Regions from separate parts of the Homo sapiens genome. Here region 2 is linked to region 1. Evidence: fine-mapped expression QTL. A gene starts in region 1. The other region holds a variant in brackets. All regions are shown on one strand. Distances are between the middles of the regions.

Region 1 (8,318 bases):
ACAATCACAGATGTACCAACAACAGTAACTAACACCCTAAGGGCCTTCTAAGGGTTCCGAGCAGCCACACCAGAGTCAGCACCACCCTGGTGTTCTCAACGGTGTCGGGGATTTGGCTGTTCTTCCTGAACCAAACCTTCACTGACAGGACGTTTTCCTGGTTCTCCAGCTGCCTCCTGACCCATCCCCAGTCTCCACTCCCCCTGCCCTCCTCCCTGACCCCAATCTTCTCAGCCTGGTGGTGCCCAGGACTAGGCCTGGCCCCTTCTTCCAACGTTTCCAGAGGACACAAACCACCTATACCTAGGGACTCCTAAAACCTGTCTCCCCTGGCAGACTCTGATCCTGGCACCACCTGCCCACCAAGGTCTCCATGGCGCCTCCCAGACATCTCACAGTGGGCAGATCCAAAACGGAGCTCCTCAGTGTCCCCAAGCCAGAGCCTGCACAGCCTTTGCTGGCCCCTCCACCCGGGGACTCACCCTCCTTCTCCCAAGGCCCACTCCTGCGGAGCACTCCTCCCCCCACTCAGCTTTTCCCACGGCCAGGCAGCTCTCCTGGCCTCCTGCCCTCCACTGTGTCTCCACCCAGCCAGAGCAGTTTCACAGTAAACATCTCAGACCTCCAGTCCACGCCAAAATCTTCCCGCATACATCAACTGGACCCTCCATGCTGCCTCCAGGACCTGCAGGACCACAGCTGGACTGAGCCAACCCCTGCTCCCTCTCCCAGCCCTGGGAATTTCACCTTCCCGCATATGCCAAGGTCCTCCTTGCCTCAGGCAGTTTCACTCAGGCTCAAGTCTGCCTCTCCCCACCTTGCCCGGTGCCAGCAGCTTCTCAGCCCTCAGATCTTGCCCTCAGTGCCACGGCCTCCCCTGAACCCTCAGGACCAGCCACTGTTCTTCACCAGCGCCCTGCTCTTTTCCACATAGGATGTACACCATGTGCCATCTGCCTCTGCCCATCTGTGCCTGGCTTCTCACCAGCCTCTCCTACCAGCTGTGGCCTCTTGAGAGGAAACAGGTCTGTCTTATTCAACACTGCACAGTCAGAAGTAAAACCGGAACTGGCCATGGCTGGTCTTCAAAAAGAATGAAGCAAAGACTACGCCTCTCTTTCCCCAAGTATTATCCGACCAGTCCAAAACGAGAGAGAGGTAAACACGTGGTAATAAATGGTAAAGGAAAATAATTCTTCTCAATCTTCAGTGGTTTGAAATGCCTCTGGATTGAACCCCAGTTATAACCCCACACCATTTGCTCAAAGTACCTGTGACGAAATCTCAGGTAAGTTCTCAGGGTCGGTGTCCGCCTTCTGAGGAGCTGGTAAGACGGGTGGATTTGCTGGTTTTAACCCAGCAATTTCTGGCCTCATCTTCTGCTCTTCCTCTAGCCTGAAAGCCAGAGCTGAATAACAGAAGCTATTTTATTTCAAATATGCCACAAGGCCTACAAGAGATTTAAACTGCTTTATAAAAACACTTGGCAGGCACTATCCATTACAAATCAACATTATGATACCTGATAGTCACTGAAATGAATTCAACAATGTCCCAAGGGAATGAAATCTTTTTCAAAACACTTGGCAGTTTGTGTCCTTGTCCATAACACAGAACCCCACATCTTTTGCCTTCCTATTTTCCATTCAGGGACGTTCAGCATGTGGCAGGTGGGCAGGAGCCCTTTAGCTTTGCTCCAAAGAGAAGCATCTTAGACCAAGTGAGAAGAGATTCTCCACATCCTCACCAGAACTCTGCCTGGTCTTTTCCAAACACACGCTAATGAGTGCTACGAAATTTGTGTGGTTATTTAGGCTGAGTGTTCAAGCCCACCAGCTGACTTACTCTATAAGGGAGGCTGGACATATCAGTACTTACACCAGAGACCTAGAAAGTAGTCAGACAGCATCAAATTAACATCTGTGTTCTAGCCAGGTGGTTACATACAGCTCTACCTTTCTCTTTATCTTGATTTCTTGCCAATTCGTTGCCATATATGCCTCCTGGAGCTGTTTAAGGTAGAATGCAAGATTGCTTCTGCCCAATCAACCCTCAACACAGATATCGTTTTCAAGTACACGTGTTTCTGATACCTTTCCAATGGTCAGCCAAGTTGATGTAGAAGAGGAGTCCACAGAAAAGCAGAAAGGCAAGGAGGAAGAGAATCATATTCCGCTGCAATCTCGACAGTTGCTTCCATTTCTAAGGGAGGTACAGAGAATGACATTTCTTACTGAATATATCACACGGAACGTCTCAACTGTCACAAACTGTGAGGACAATAAGGAATTCTTCTGGAAGATCCAGTGTTCAGCTCTATTTCTTTTTTTTTTTGGAAACAGGGTCTCATTCTGTTACACCTAGGCTGGAGTGTAGTGGGTGGAACGCGGGATGAGCCACCGTGCCCGGCCAGCTCTATTTATTTTGAATGGGGAGAAGTTCCCTCTCAGCAGGGAGTAGGAACATTGCTGGGACAATACTACAGATGTCGTTAATACAGTGGTGCAGATGAGACGAGGATAAGAAAAAAGCAGAAACATTTCTGTCACATTTCATCAACAGTGGAGAAAGACTCCTGCGACTCCCACAGATGTAGCCCAGGCACCGCCCAGGCGATGCACAGTCCGCATGTGGTTATCAATGCCCTTCGGCCTGAGACCACCACGAACAGACCAGGAGCCAATCAAGAGGGGCTCATTTCTCACTGTACCGAGGGGAGCATACACCACGGGGAACCTCCGGTTTCCGCTCCAAGAGGGGCAGGCGCCTGGGCCAGGACCTTGCAGAAAAGCGAACGAAGCCCAGAAAACCTGCTGGGGCTCTGAGCCCTCTTCCCACCACCGCCCCGCAGAATTTGGGCCGCTGAGACCGCTGCAGGCGAGCCGCCCACGGCTGCCCCAACCAGGAACGCACATTTGCCCCTTTTTGCGGGGAAGGGGTGGAGAGGGCGGCGCCTGGGGAGTCGAGTCCGCCCGCCCAGGTCCCGCTCGGAGCCGCAGTCTGGGAGGGCGGCGGGCACGGCAGCCCCGGGCCCCAGTCAGCCCGGCGCGACCCTCACCCTCCAGCACGAGCGCCGCCGCCAACTCTTGCTGTTGTCATAGTTCTCGCCAAAGCTCAGCGTCACCGAGATGAAGTCCCGATGAGGCGGCGGCGGCGGCGGTGGGTACATGACTACAGTGGTGGCGACGGCCCAAGGGGCCCCGCCCACTGGCGGCGTCAGGAAGTCCGACTGAGAGGAACCGAGAGCTCCGCTTCTCCTGCCCTCGCAGGCAGCCATCGCAGCGCCGTCAACAGCCCGCCCATCACACGGATACGCGACTGCGCGTGCGCTGCGTCTCTATGCGGCCAGTGCGCCCGCGCCTGTCTCCGCTGCGCTCCAGCGTACGGGGCTGCGTCCTACGGCGACTGCGTCAGACAACTGCTGCGACTCCGCCCTGCCCTCAGGTTCATTGCGCATGCGTCCGGCAGCGCCTGCCCAGGTGTGCTACGAGCGTAGCTGTAGCAACGGGGCGGGCCTTGGTTCGCCTGGGGCGTGGTCGCTGTCTGGGGCTCCCACGTGGTTCGCCTCATGGGCCTGGAGCTGGGCTTCTCTCGCCTCCTGTCGTCTGGCTGCACCGACTTTGCCCACGCCCTCACGGGAGACGCAGACACTAGGGACCCGGGGAGGCGCCCGGGCGGGGCCGCCATGTTGGCAGAGAGTCCCAGCGTCCCGCGCCTCGGTTCCGGAACCCGCGGCGCGGGGATGGAGCTGGGCTGCCCTTGGGCGCCGTCCTGGGCTGGTGCCCACCCTGGCCGCGTGGTCACCGGCAAGAAGCCCAGGGCCTCACCCAGGCGTGGGGGCCGGGGGAAGGACCGGACCCTCCCGAAGTCGCGGACCAGGCCGGGCGGCACCCGGGCTGGGGTGGCTGCTACCCCGAGCTAAGCTGGCTGCGCCGCATCTCACGGTCCCCGGGGCCCGAGCGCTGCGCCTGGACCGGCGCCGAGCGAGGCGGCCAATCGGCCGGCTGGACCCACAGTCCCCGCGCCATAGGCGGGTCGGGGCTTTCAGACCCGGCTCCCAGCCCTCGAACTCGGTAACCTTGGAGGTCAGCTTGAGATGACTGCGCTTCCTGCACGCGTTGTCCTCCCCAGAAACGCCCAAAATGGCAAAGCGGCGTCCGTGGCCGCCCGAGGCCCTCCCTGCCTGGGTTCTCCCCAGCCGAACCTCACGCCCGGCCCCTCCTTCATTCTCTCCTGGCCAGGCTGCTCCTGCCCTTGGGCGAATCCGCTGCGTCCCACGGTCCTGACTGTGGCATTTCTGCGTGTCTGGAGAGCTCCCCCGGCAGCGACGTCCTGCTTAGCACGTGGCTCGTCTAACTCTGTTCCCCTGGCCTCCTGCTCTTCTAGGGGTCATCTTTAGGTTTCTGCTGGTCTCTGCCCCCTGTGACACTTGCTGGTACCCAAATGAAGTCGTTTATGTCACACTCTAACAAGAGGCCCTGAAGAAGCCCTCACAAAAACATTAGCAACGGAGCGCCTGCGGCAAACCCTTCTAACCTTTGGTCTTTATGGTTTCAAAGCAGTTTATGGGAACTTCTCTTTTTTAAAAGATTCCCCTTGGGGCCAGGCGCGGTGGCTTCTGTAATCCCAGGACTTTGGGAGGCCGAGGCAGGTGGATCACTTGAGGTCAGGAGTTCAAGACTAGCCTGGCCAACATGGTGAGACACCCGTCTCTACAAAAAACACAAAAAAATTAGCAGGGCATGGTTGGTGGCAGGCACCTGTAGTCCCAGCTACACGGGAGGCTTAGGCAGGAGAATTCCTTGAACCCAGGAGGTGGAGGTTGCAGTGAGCCGAGATGGCACCACTGCACTCCAGCCTGGGCAACAGAGCAAGACTCTGTCTCAAAAAAAAAAAAAAAAAAAAAAAAGAAATTTCCCGTGGGCGGGGCACAGTGACTCATGCCTGTAGTAATCCCAGCACTTTTGGAGGCCAAGGTGGGCAGATCCCCTGAGCTCAGGAGTCCAACCTGGGCAACATGGTGAAACCCCTGTCTCTACAAAAAATAAAAAAATGAGTCCAGTGTGGTGGTGTGCACCTGTGGTCCCAGCTACTCTGGAGGCTGAGGTGGGAAGACCACCTAAGCCCCAGGAGGTCGAGGCTGCAGTGAGCCATGATTGCACCACTGCACTCCAGCCTGGGCAACAGAGTGAGATCCAGTCTCAAAAAAAAAAAATTCCCCCTTTCCTCAATCCCCACCCCACCCCCCCACCACATGCCTGTGACCCACTGAGGCTTGCATACTCTGCATTGCAATTATGTGTTATTCTTGATTAAATTCATTTATTCTGGAGAGCCTGAGTTTCTCTTTAGGTTGACACCACTCACTCTTGTCAGTCCCTGGAGTACCCCAAGCATCCTCACGTGGTTAGCAGGGAAACCTTGGCATCTCAAGGATGCAGGTGCAGGAGAGCGAGTCTCCAGGCTGTCAGAGCTGAGCATGCAGAAGCCTGCCCTGGAGAGCGCCCCGAGGTTCCTGACCGCAGGTTGTCTCAGGCCCTCCTGAGACCCTGGTGAAGAGTGGGATGGGACCGCGGGGGGATTCCTTGGCACCCCAAGTAGTCTTGGCCTTCATGTGTGAACTCCTGTCCCTAAGGGGGCCCCCAGTGAGCTCCAGCCCTGGGACACAGCTGTGAACACCTGATCCTTGTTCCCAACACCCGTGCACTGCCCAAAAACTGCACTTGCCAGAGTAGCAGTCAATTACGGCACCTTGTGTTTATTGGAAATATTCCACCTACAGAACATTAAGATGCCAGCAACCGGCCCGGCGCGGTGGCTCACACCTATAATCCCAGCACTTTGGGAGGCCGAGGTGGGTGGATCACGAGGTCAGGAGATCGAGACCATCCTGGCTAACACGGTCAAACCCCATCTCTACTAAAAATACAAAGAATTAGCCAGGCGTGGTAGTGGGTGCCTGTAGTCCCAGCTACTAGGGAGGCTGAGGCTGGCCTGGAGGTTGCAGTGAGCCAAGGTCACGCCACTTCACTCCAGCCTGGGCAACAAGAGTGAAACTCCGTCTAAAACAAACAAAAAAAAAGACTTCACCCAACTAACTGTGCTTGTGTAGAAAGAGGTTGCATCCCTGTTCCAGTCATGGCCATGAGGAACAGCTATGAGAAGGGCCCTAAGGCACAGCATGGTTTGCAGTAAGAAGGGCAGAGCCAGGGAGAGAGAAGTAAACATCATCTTCTGGGCTTTGGTTTCAAAAATCACAAGGTGTGGGCCTGAGCCTGCTGCCTGCCCAGGTCTGGGCGCCTCCACTCAGCCACTGTCCTCCCAGTGCCTCTAAATCTGGAAGGCTGCATCTGAACCTGCCCTTCCAGACAACACCCCTCCCCTGGGAAACCAATGGGGATGAGTAGTGGCCCTCCACTGGGGACTGTGGGTTTCGAGGTGGGGGCAGAGGATGAGTTGGCAGCAGTGGCATATCATAGCTCTCTTCATGTCAGCAGGGAGAGGGAGGTGCCACTGCCTCCCCTGAGATGAGAAAGCAGGCGAGAATCACCAGGGGAAGAACCCTGGGGCAGCTGGCTTGTCCCAGCCATGCCTGAGTGCACCAAATATGGAGGCTGCGTCCTCACTCGGAGAGCCAGGCAGCCTGAGCACCAAGATCCGTCAGAAGCAGCAGGCAGCTGGGGTGAGGGGTGGTGCCTCTGACTCATGAAATCCCGGATTAGTCAGCAACCATCACAGAGGCCGCCGGCATTGATCCCACTGGTTCTTGGGGAAGCACAGAAAACTCAGCAGCCTAAACCGACCATGGAAGAGGCTGAGAGGCAGAGGCCTTGGGGATAGATGGGGAGAAGGCAGGAGTACCGGCCGCAGGCTCAGGTGTCCAGGCCAAGCTTCTCAGAGCCACCTGGATCATGGACATCAGGCTCTTTCTGTGGCCTTGCTGGGCATCCAGGGTGTGTGGGCTGGGATGCCCCAGCCTTGCCCCCATTACTGGTTCGTCTGCTAAGGAAGAGGGGGCAGCCCTCGAGTGGGTGGAATTGTCCCCCTCATTCTGGTTCTGCATCTGTAGGCTGCAGAAGCACATCCTGTGTAGCTTATGCAGCTTCTAGTGCTCGGTGGGGTGTGGTGGATCCACAAGGCGGGCTCCCAAAGGGACATGCCCTCCTGTTCTCCCCAGATGACACCACACCTCCCTTGGGCCCCAACCCGAAGCCTCCTCTCAGCCCCATTCTCCCAGGTCCCAAGTCCCTCTGCCTCTTGACTAGACCCCACAGCCAGGAATGGAGCCACAGAGCCCCCAGCAGGCTGTCGCCACTTGTGTCCAGAGGCGACAGGAGAGGCCCTGCCCTCGTGGAGTCTACCAGCATGTTTCATTCTGTGTTCTGCAGGCTGGAAGCATGGGGCAGGCTGCTTTCCCACCCAGAGCTCAGGCTGGGCTGTAGCCCCCAGCTCCAGGACGCCGGGGCTGGCAGGTCTGGGGGGAGTCGGGACTTCCAGGATGCCGGGGCTGGCAGGTCTCGGGGGAGTCTGGGGACAGTCTGGGCGGGTCAGGACTCCTGCAGCTGCGGCTCCCTGGCCTGGTCTTCATCCAGGATGAGCGGGGACTGGAACTCCCGGCCTTGCAGGTACACTTCTAAACCCTGGAGACGAGCAGGGGACAATGGCCAAGTACCCACCTTTTGGCGGGTCACAGCCCCTCTGGCCACACCAAGAGCCACAGTCCCCAGGTGCGATCCCAGGTCTGCCTGGAGTCAGGGAGGGGTGGGGACAGAAAGGCTTCCAGGGCCAGGAGCAGACACACACTGCAAGGCCACCCAAGACCACACTCAAGACCCTAGGCCAGCAGGGGACCCTCCTGTCACGCACAGGTCTGACCTGACCAGAGAAAGGGGCAAGGGCAGCCGAGGTCAGGGAGGTAGCAGAGGCCGGTGTCCTCCCTCCGCAAGGCCCCCACCAAGGCCTGACTGGCCCCACACTGGGCTCAGACCTGGGCTGTCTCATCCCCATGCCCTCCCAGGACCTGCAAAGGCCTCTGGATGCCTCACCCCACCCCAACCCATATCTTGGAAAGTCTTCTGCAAATTTAAACCACCGACCCCATTGGTTAACCGAGGTAGAGCTGTGCCGTCTCCACCCGAGCAGCCACCTCTCCCCAGATGGTATTCCAAACCTGACACCAGAAAAGCCCCAGATAGGGATGGGCAGCTCTCACCTCTCCAGAGTAAGACACCAAGGGCGATATCTCACAGATGGCCGGAGGGTCTCCATTTGGGGGCAAGCTAGGGAAAGTCCACTTGTCAATATCTCCTTGCAGCACC
Region 2 (8,317 bases), 57 kb before region 1:
TGCATGTGTGTCTGTGCTGGCTGGCGCAAGTAAGGGTGAGCATGCACATGAGGAGCGCACCTGAGCGTGTGTCCAGGTGTGTGTGTGAGGAGCGCACCTGTGCGTGTCCAGGTGTGTGTGTGAGGAGCGCACCTGAGTACGTGTCCAGGTGTGTGTGTGGCGCTGGAGCTGCATGGAGGCAAGCCTGAGCCTGTGGCCAGAGGTGTGGAGTGTGATGGGAATGTGTGCATGCACCTGTGAGTGAAAGCAGGCAGTTGGGTGCGCAGGGGTGAGTGTGTGATGGGAGTCCGTGGCCGTGGGTGGACATGCCAGAAGGTGAGGGGCCTGTCGAGCGCTGGGGTGAGGGGCCTGTCGGGTGCTGGGGGGGAGGGGCCTGTCGGGCGCTGGGGGGAGGGGCCTGTCGGGCACTGGGGTGAGGGGCACTGTCTTGGGTGGGGCCCTTGGTGCCCATGCCCCTCCCCCCCAAGACTCAGCAGACCCCCCACGACAGTACTCCCAGGACCCTCTGGTCTGCCCCTGGCTTTACCCCCGACCCATGCCCTCTGGTCCCTCCCGGGGCCTGGGGTGCCTTGGGGGGTGCTAGGTTGGCCCTAAGTCCGATGAAGCCAGCTCTGACACGAAACATGCTCCCAGCCACCCATAGGTCTGGCCCTCCTCAGCCTGGGCCTCCTCCCACTGCTTGATCAGGAGCTGGCCCAGGTGCTGAGCACCCAGGGCTCCGGGGGTCTGTAGCCGAGAACCAGCTCTGCCCCAGACTGCAAATGGGAGTGGTAAGGAAGGGGAAAGGGGTCGCTCGGACCCCCCCAAATCCCAGCTCTGATCTCTCTGCAGCCCCACAGAGTGGACGCCTGGCTGTGTTGGGGGTCAGTGTGTCCTAGAACCAGGTGGCTAATGGGTCTTGGTGAGGAGTGCAGAGGGAGCCCTGTGGTGGGGGCAAGGAGGGGAGTGGAGCCCACAGGGGCGGTCCAGGCTGGGGGGCAGGTGTCTGTGGACAGGGCTTTGCTGAGCCATGAGGTGCAGAGCTTCAGGGGAGGCCACGCGGGGGAGGACAGGGAATGGGCCCAGCCAGGAGGGGACAGGCCTGCAGGGGCGGTATGTGGGGGTCGTGTACAGGGGAGACCTTGCCCAGAGGGAGGCTGCTGGGGACTCAGGACAGGGTGGGCGGGAAGGGTGACGAGTCCCAAGCCCGGCTGGGGCCTCCAGGGAGCGAGGGGCATGGGCAGGAGGAGGGGACGAGGGCGCTCGGCAGCGCGGGGCAGGGGTGTTTGCGGAGCTCCAGGTGGTCTGGCCCTCGCCCCGCAGGGACTGACACGAAGGAGATTTCGACTAATGGCAAAAGCGAGTGAAATGAGCCGAGGACAGGCTGGGGCGGGCGCTCGCCAGACGTGGTGGTGCTGACCATGCACGATGGAAAGAAGAGGGTGTCACACACGGAGCCACAGACACAAGGCGGCCCGTCCTGCACCTCGGCTCCGCCAGGCGCCCACCCGCGGCGCCGACCCTCACCTTGGACTCACGCTCCTCCAGCAGCGTCTCCAGGCGTTTCTGAGCCGCCCGGCCCTCGTGGTCGTCGCTGACCAGCAGGATGATGTGGTTCCAGCTGTAGACACGCATCATCTCAAACCACACGCTGGACTGGTGGGAGTAGGGCGGCACGGTGCGCAGGAAGCTCAGGTGGATGCTCTGCGGGAGGCGGGGGCACGGCGGGCTGAGGTGGACCCGCGGGGACCCGCCCTCCCACCCGCCTCCCACTGCCGGAACACCCGCCGGAGGCTGGGAACCCCCCTCCTCCCACCCCTGTCCCCACCCCCATGGGGACACGTTCTAGACCCTGGGACCCCCTCGTGTCTCCCACCCCGTCCCTACCACCCTGGGGACACTTTCTAGACCCTGGGACCCCCTCGTGTCTCCCACCCCTGTCCCCACCCCGCTGGGGACACTTTCTAGACTCTGGGACCCCCTCGTGTCTCCCATCCCATCCCTGCCACCCTGGGGACACTTTCTAGACCCTGGGACCCCCTCGTGTCTCCCACCCCTGTCCCTACCACCCTGGGGACACTTTCTGGACCCTGGGACCCCCTTCCTCTCACTCCTGTCCCCACCCCTCTGGGGACACTTTCTGGACCCTGGGACCCCCTTCCTCTCACTCCTGTCCCCACCCCTCTGGGGACACTTTCTGGACCCTGGGACCCCCTTCCTCTCACCCCGGTCCCCACACCCCTGGGGACACTTTCTAGACCCTGGGACCCCCTTCCTCTCACCCCGGTCCCCACCCCTCTGGGGACACTTTCTAGACCCTGGGACCCCCTTCCTCTCACCCCGGTCCCCACCCCTCTGGGGACACTTTCTGGACCCTGGGACCCCCTTCCTCTCACTCCTGTCCCCACCCCTCTGGGGACACTTTCTGGACCCTGGGACCCCCTTCCTCTCACTCCTGTCCCCACCCCTCTGGGGACACTTTCTGGACCCTGGGACCCCCTTCCTCTCACCCCGGTCCCCACACCCCTGGGGACACTTTCTAGACTCTGGGACCCCCTCGTGTCTCCCATCCCATCCCTGCCACCCTGGGGACACTTTCTAGACCCTGGGACCCCCTCGTGTCTCCCACCCCTGTCCCTACCACCCTGGGGACACTTTCTGGACCCTGGGACCCCCTTCCTCTCACTCCTGTCCCCACACCCCTGGGGACACTTTCTAGACCCTGGGACCCCCTCCTGTCTCCCACCCCTGTCCCCACCACCCTGGGGACACTTTTTTTTTTTTTTAAACAGTCTCGCACTGTTACCCAGGCTGGAGTGCAATCTCGGCTCACTGCAGGCTCCGCCTCCTGGGTTCACACCATTCTCCTGCCTCAGCCTCCCAAGTAGCTGAGACTACAGGCGCCCGCCACCACGCCCGGCTAATTTTTTTGTATTTTTAGTGGAGATGGGGTTTCACCGTATTAGCCAGGATGGTCTCGATCTCCTGACCTCGTGATCCGCCCGCCTCGGCCTCCCAAAGTGCTGGGATTACAGGCGTGAGCCACCGCGCCCGGCCAACCTGGGGACACTTTCTAGACACTGGGACCCCTCCTTTTTCCCACCCCTGTCCCCACCATCCTGGGGACACTTTTTAGACCCTGGGAACCTCTCTCCCACCCCGGCCTCTCCTCCCACATATAATCTCGGAAATGGAGGAGGTTTAGTGTTGGCCCCATAGCACCCTAAGGGACGTGGGTTTCTGTGGAATTGTGCCTGGGGTGAGCTCACCTCTTCCCCTGCAGCCCACCACCTTTGGACAAGCTGAGCTCAGGAAATTCTTGATGACACATAGCGCCTCGAAGATCCCCCTGGGGCTGCCCATAGAGTCCTCCCAAATTTAAACAACTCTATGTATGAAGAAGAATTCACTCTTGGGGCTAAAGGCCTCATCTCCCCAGGCGAGAGCGTGGTGCTTGCTTGCCCTGGCTTGCTTTTCCTGGCTTCAAGCTGCCACGGAGTGCCGTGGCATGGCCGGGAGTGGAGCAGGCTCTGCCCCCCTCTGCCTCAGTTCTCTGTGTCTGTC[C/G]AGGTAAGCCCTGGTTCCTTCAGTGTCCCTGTGGACTCTTGCTGATCTTGTGGTCCTCTGAGGCTTCCAGGTTATTTTTCACCTGCTCCCTCTTTGTGGCCTGGGGCAGTGCCTTGGGGTGCAAAAATGTCCCCTGCTTCTGTCTATCCACCTGGTGACGTGGTGGCAAGGCAGGCTGTGCTTGAGGTCTTGGACTAGCTCTGACCTGGCCTTGCCGGTTCATGTTTTGGGCACAGGTTGGTTGTAGTGTAGAGACTGTGGTAAGGCCAGGGTGCAGCTGTGAGCTGTGCCCCCTCCCTTTGGCCTGCTCTGGGCCAGGGGCATCCGTTTCCCCCGCCTTTCATTTGACCACTGGCTGCTTTCCTGGGTAAGGCCATCTTCTCTCCTTCACATGTGAGGAAACTGGTGCCCAGAGAGGCGAAGGAGGTCGTGCCTGAGGGCACAGGAATGAGACCCCCACCTTCCCATGGCCAGAGGTGAAGTCACCTGGGAGGAGCAGTTTGGGTGCCGAGGGGGCACGCCAGGGCTTTCAGAGCCTCAGGAAGGTGGCTGTTCCAGCCTCTGTCTCAGTTCCTGCCTCTGGGGCCTTCCATCCTCCCAGAAGAGCCTGGGCCTGGCTGGGGCGACCCCTGTGCTTTAAGGCAGTGTTACCAAGGACTGTGGACTCTGGGCAGGAGGAATTTGGAGAAGGTGGGGGACCCAGAAGCCTGGCTGCACAGCCCAGCCCTCTGGCTCCTCAGCGCTGGCACCAAACTGGATGTCCCCTGCCAAGTGGCCCTGCAGGTCTGTCTGCCAGTGGCCCCAGGTTGGTCAGCCTCTCAGTGCCCAGTTTGCATCCTGGGTAGACGGAGGGCTGTGTGACCTAGAGCAAGCCCCCATGGCTCTCTGGCTTGGAGATTCCTGCAAAACTGACTGGATGACCCTCCTCTCTTCCAGCTGATGTTCCAGGATTGGACAGAAGCCCTCCTCATAGCCTGTGGGCCAGGAGGGTCTGCAGGAGGCTAAGCCAAGGTGCCCTCAGCCCTAGAGGCTGGAAGCCCCCAGGCCAGCGCCCCCGACCCTGAGCTGCAACCACAGACATTGCTCTCCACCCATGCCTGCAGTGGGAAAGGCTGGCCCCACCACCCTGGCTGCGTGCACACCCCTTTCCTCCTGGAGCAACCCCCAGCTCTCCAAACTCCCCTTCAAAGTCCACCTGTCTAGAAAGCCTCCCAGCCATCCCTTCTCCTAGCCCACGGGCCCTCTCGTCCTGAGGGGGTGTCACTGGTGCCTGTGCCAGTGAGTGTGTGTGACTTTGTGCGAATCCATGGGTGTGTCAGTGTTCATGTGTGGGGAGGGTGAGCATAGCAGTGTAGCGTGTGGGTGCTGTATGAATGTGTGAGTGTGTGATGTGTGTGTGATGTGTGAGTGTGTGATGTGTGCCCCCTCCCTTTGGCCTGCTCTGGGCTGGGGGCACGTGCTGGGCTCCACGTGAGCCCTCTATGTGCAAGAGAGTGTGTATTGTGTGTGTAAGAGCACATGAGTGTGCATGTGAGCATGTTTGCAGATGTGTGAGTTGGACACGTGAGAGCGTGTGGACGTGCATGAATGTGGGGGAGCTGTGTGGCTGTTTGTGGTGTGTGAGTTCCATGTGAGCGGGTCGGCCCGCTGCTCCTGGAGTGGCCAGGCTGTGCCCTGGGGCCGAGGGCCGGAAGGCCTGGTCTGGCAGTCAGGCTTACCTTGTCCGAGTAGATGGACATGCGGGTGGTCAGCCCCAGCACGGGTATGCGGTAGAAGCCGGCTGTGTAGGAGACAGGGGTGGGAGTGAAGTGGTCGTTGGGGGTAGGTGGATGGCTAACTAGGATGGCGTAGACCTGTGGACACAGGAGACATGATCAGCTTGAGTCAGGGGTGAGCCAGGCACTGGGTTAGAGGCTGAGATCTGGAAGCAGCAGGGGCTGAACCCAGCAGGCTAAGGGGGGCTGGGGGCATGATTCGGGTACATGCTACATGCCCAGGCCCAGATGCACACATGCCCACAGGGCAGGGGAGGGAGACCCCACCCGGACCTCCCCTCACTCCTCTCACACTGCTGACTAGGGCCCTGCAGGTGTTGTGCTCAAGGGCCAGGTGAAGGACTGCCCTTGGGATGTCCTGGGGGCCTGGAGCACGGGACGCACCCAAGGTGGACCGGGGAGGATGGCTGGTCCTGCATCATGATGGCCTTGATTCTCAGAACCCACCCGTCCTTCCTGATGGGCCAGGGGTGGGGCCAGCCCACATCCCGAGACAGGGCGGGCAGCTCTGAAGGGTGGTACCGGACTTCAGGGGGAAGCAGCTAGGAGCTGCCAAAGAGGCCGAGATCCCTTTTGCTGGTGTCTCCAGGGGCAGGGCCTGTGACGGGCTCTGTCTGAACAACACCAAGCCCTTACTTTGAGTGCTGGCCTCATCCTCAAGGAAGGGAAGGGAGGCATTGGGGGTGCAGCCCAGCCTTCCTGCCCATGACCAAGGCCCCATGGGGCAGATCTAAAGCCAGCGGCTCAGCCCCCTGGAGCTGATGCCTCCCTCTCTCCCCAGCCTCCCAAGGCAGGGAGGCAGGCAGCTGGTGGTCCACACCACCTTCACACAGCAAGGACCTGCGTCTGTCCCCAAGTCTGCCTGTGCCTCTTAGAGCTTTGGCGAATGGGGGCGTGCACTGCATGGCCCCACGTGGCAGGACAGTACCTGGCCGGGGGTGTGTTCCGTGAGTGGTAGCTGCAGGCATTGCCTTTGCTGCAGAGGCCATGCCCACAGACAGACAGCAACATGGGCGTGAGTTGAAGCAATTCCCCAGGAATGGCCCCTCCTGGATTTCCTGAGTCCACCTTCCGTGTCCCTCCCCAGTCCCAGATGGAATATGTGACTGCAGCCACTGGCTACAGATGCATCCCCCCAGTCCCATCCCATGGTGTCCTGGGCTGGGGCACGGGGGTGGCTTGTGAAGTGGGGAGGGAGGATTTCTGAGAAAACTCTGGTGTGGGCCCTGCAGCTGCAGCTGTTTGAAGTGGTTCTCCCTCCCCCAGCTCTTGCTTCCAGCCTGCACCCAGAGGTGCTTGGCAAAGACCCGTAGGTCCGTGTGTGACCATGCAGGTGTTCACGCGTGTGCTAGGGTATGGTTATGTGCATCACATGCCCTGGCATGTCTGTTCGTGTACATGCGTGTGAATGACTGGAACCATGTGTGTAAATGTGCATGTTTGCACGTGCCTCTGGGAATGCATGCCAAGCCGTGTGTGGCACATGAGCAGGTGTCAATGGATCTGCATGTGTGCAGATGAGCATATGAAATTGATTGTGTGATGCTGAGGTGCATGAGTGTGTGCTAATGTAACATTTGGTGTGAGTGTGAGCATGTGTGTCCACAGATGTGGTGTGTCCATCAGGTAGGCACGTGTGAGCGGTGCTAGGCTGGATGTCTGTCTTGCCTCTTACATAAAGGGCTGCATTGCAGATCCTTGCAGCCTCATTGGAATTCAGCAGGCGCTCGGCCCAGGGGCGGACAGCTCCGACAGGCAAAATCCCAGGAGCCACGTCCTCCCCCGCAGCGCTGGCTGCCGACAGCTCCCATGCCCTGATGCCTCTCGCGTGTGCACCCCCACTCCCACCCCCACAAAGCGTCCTGCCGTGGCACCTGAGCCATTTCTCTTCCCAGGCGGACCCATCGGTAGGGGGAAGGGACGAAAGAAAGGGCAGGAGAACCTGGAAGCAGAAACAAAGATGGCCCCAGGCCCCGTCCTGTTTAAAGCTCTGCAGGGCGGGCATGTAGCTGGACAGGCGCTTCTACTCTCTTACCCGGAATGCCCACCCCCACACTGACACACTCCAGCCCCACGTCTACACACACCAGTCAGGGCCTGGAGCCCCAGGGGCCCTCTGAGGACCAGCCAAGGTGGCAGGTGACTGGTCTCAGGCCAAGATAGGGGAGCCAGCAGACCCTGGTGTTTGGTTCCTAGTGAGACGAGGCCTCCCGGAAGCAGCCAGCTGACTCTGGGGTGGTGTCTTACAGGGAGGAAGGGGGCACGGAAAGGATGGAATGAAACTGGGGGTGTGGGGTTGCAGGATGGAGGAGAGGGGAGGTGGGTGGCGGAGGTGGGGGAGGGCACCTGGCTGGAGATGAGGTCCTCGCACACCGACAGAGCCATCTGGATGGCGTTGGGCTTGTGCGTGACGGAGGTGGCATTGAGCTGAATCTTCCAGGAGCCGTGCCGCTTGTTGGCCTGGTTCACGGCCTCGCGGAACATCTGCTCGTGCTTCCGCGTGCTCAGCACCGCGCCAATGTTGACGATCTTGGGGTCGCACGCGGCACGGGCGACGGAGCAGGAGAACAGCAGGGCGAGCGTCAGCAGGCGCATGGTGCTCATGGGCTCGGGCCGCGGGCCTGGCTCTGCGCGGCGCGAACGCGGGGCCCTCGGCGCATCCCCCGCGGGGCTTCCGGGCCGTCCTGCGCTCGCCCGGCCCCGCGGGCTGCGGACGCCACGTCTCCCCCGGAGCGGCGGTCCCGGGACGTCGGCCGAGGGAAGGGGCGCTGAAGCGTGCGCGGGGGCTCGGGGCTCAGCCCCACGCGGCCGGCGCTGTCCGCGGTGCTGAAGCGGGGCCGGGCACAGCTCCGAGCGCCCGGCTTGGAAAGGGCCCGGCGGCGGCGGCGGCGGCTCCGCGGACGGCGCTGGTTCCGGTCCGGACGCTGCGGCGACTGCAGCAGCTGCAGAAACGCGAGCGGGGCCAACGTCTCCTGCCCCTCCCGCCGCCCCCGCTTCCC

The links. PIP is the estimated chance that this variant, and not a neighbour inherited with it, causes the effect.
Region 2: its variant is fine-mapped to the expression of MAN1B1 in whole blood (Lepik 2017, PIP 0.95).

What each region holds. Positions count from the first base shown.
Region 1 is chr9:137,081,959-137,090,276 of GRCh38, reverse strand. It overlaps MAN1B1 (mannosidase alpha class 1B member 1), which reads right to left and starts at 3,292. Exons shown (of 13, transcript NM_016219.5): 1 at 3,059-3,292; 2 at 2,094-2,202; 3 at 1,272-1,408. The coding sequence starts at 3,277. UAP1L1 (UDP-N-acetylglucosamine pyrophosphorylase 1 like 1) reads right to left here. Exons shown (of 9, transcript NM_207309.3): 8 at 8,213-8,279; 9 at 5,739-7,640. The coding sequence ends at 7,548. MAN1B1-DT (MAN1B1 divergent transcript) reads left to right here and starts at 3,460. Exons shown (of 1, transcript NR_027447.1): 1 at 3,460-5,331. RefSeq lists silencers at 2,929-3,158, 3,709-3,938, 6,524-6,758 and enhancers at 3,139-3,368, 6,536-6,865.
Region 2 is chr9:137,139,092-137,147,408 of GRCh38, reverse strand. It overlaps GRIN1 (glutamate ionotropic receptor NMDA type subunit 1), which reads right to left and starts at 8,255. Exons shown (of 20, transcript NM_007327.4): 1 at 7,665-8,255; 2 at 5,262-5,396; 3 at 1,507-1,683. The coding sequence starts at 7,922. The variant C/G (reference allele first, on the strand shown) is at 3,544.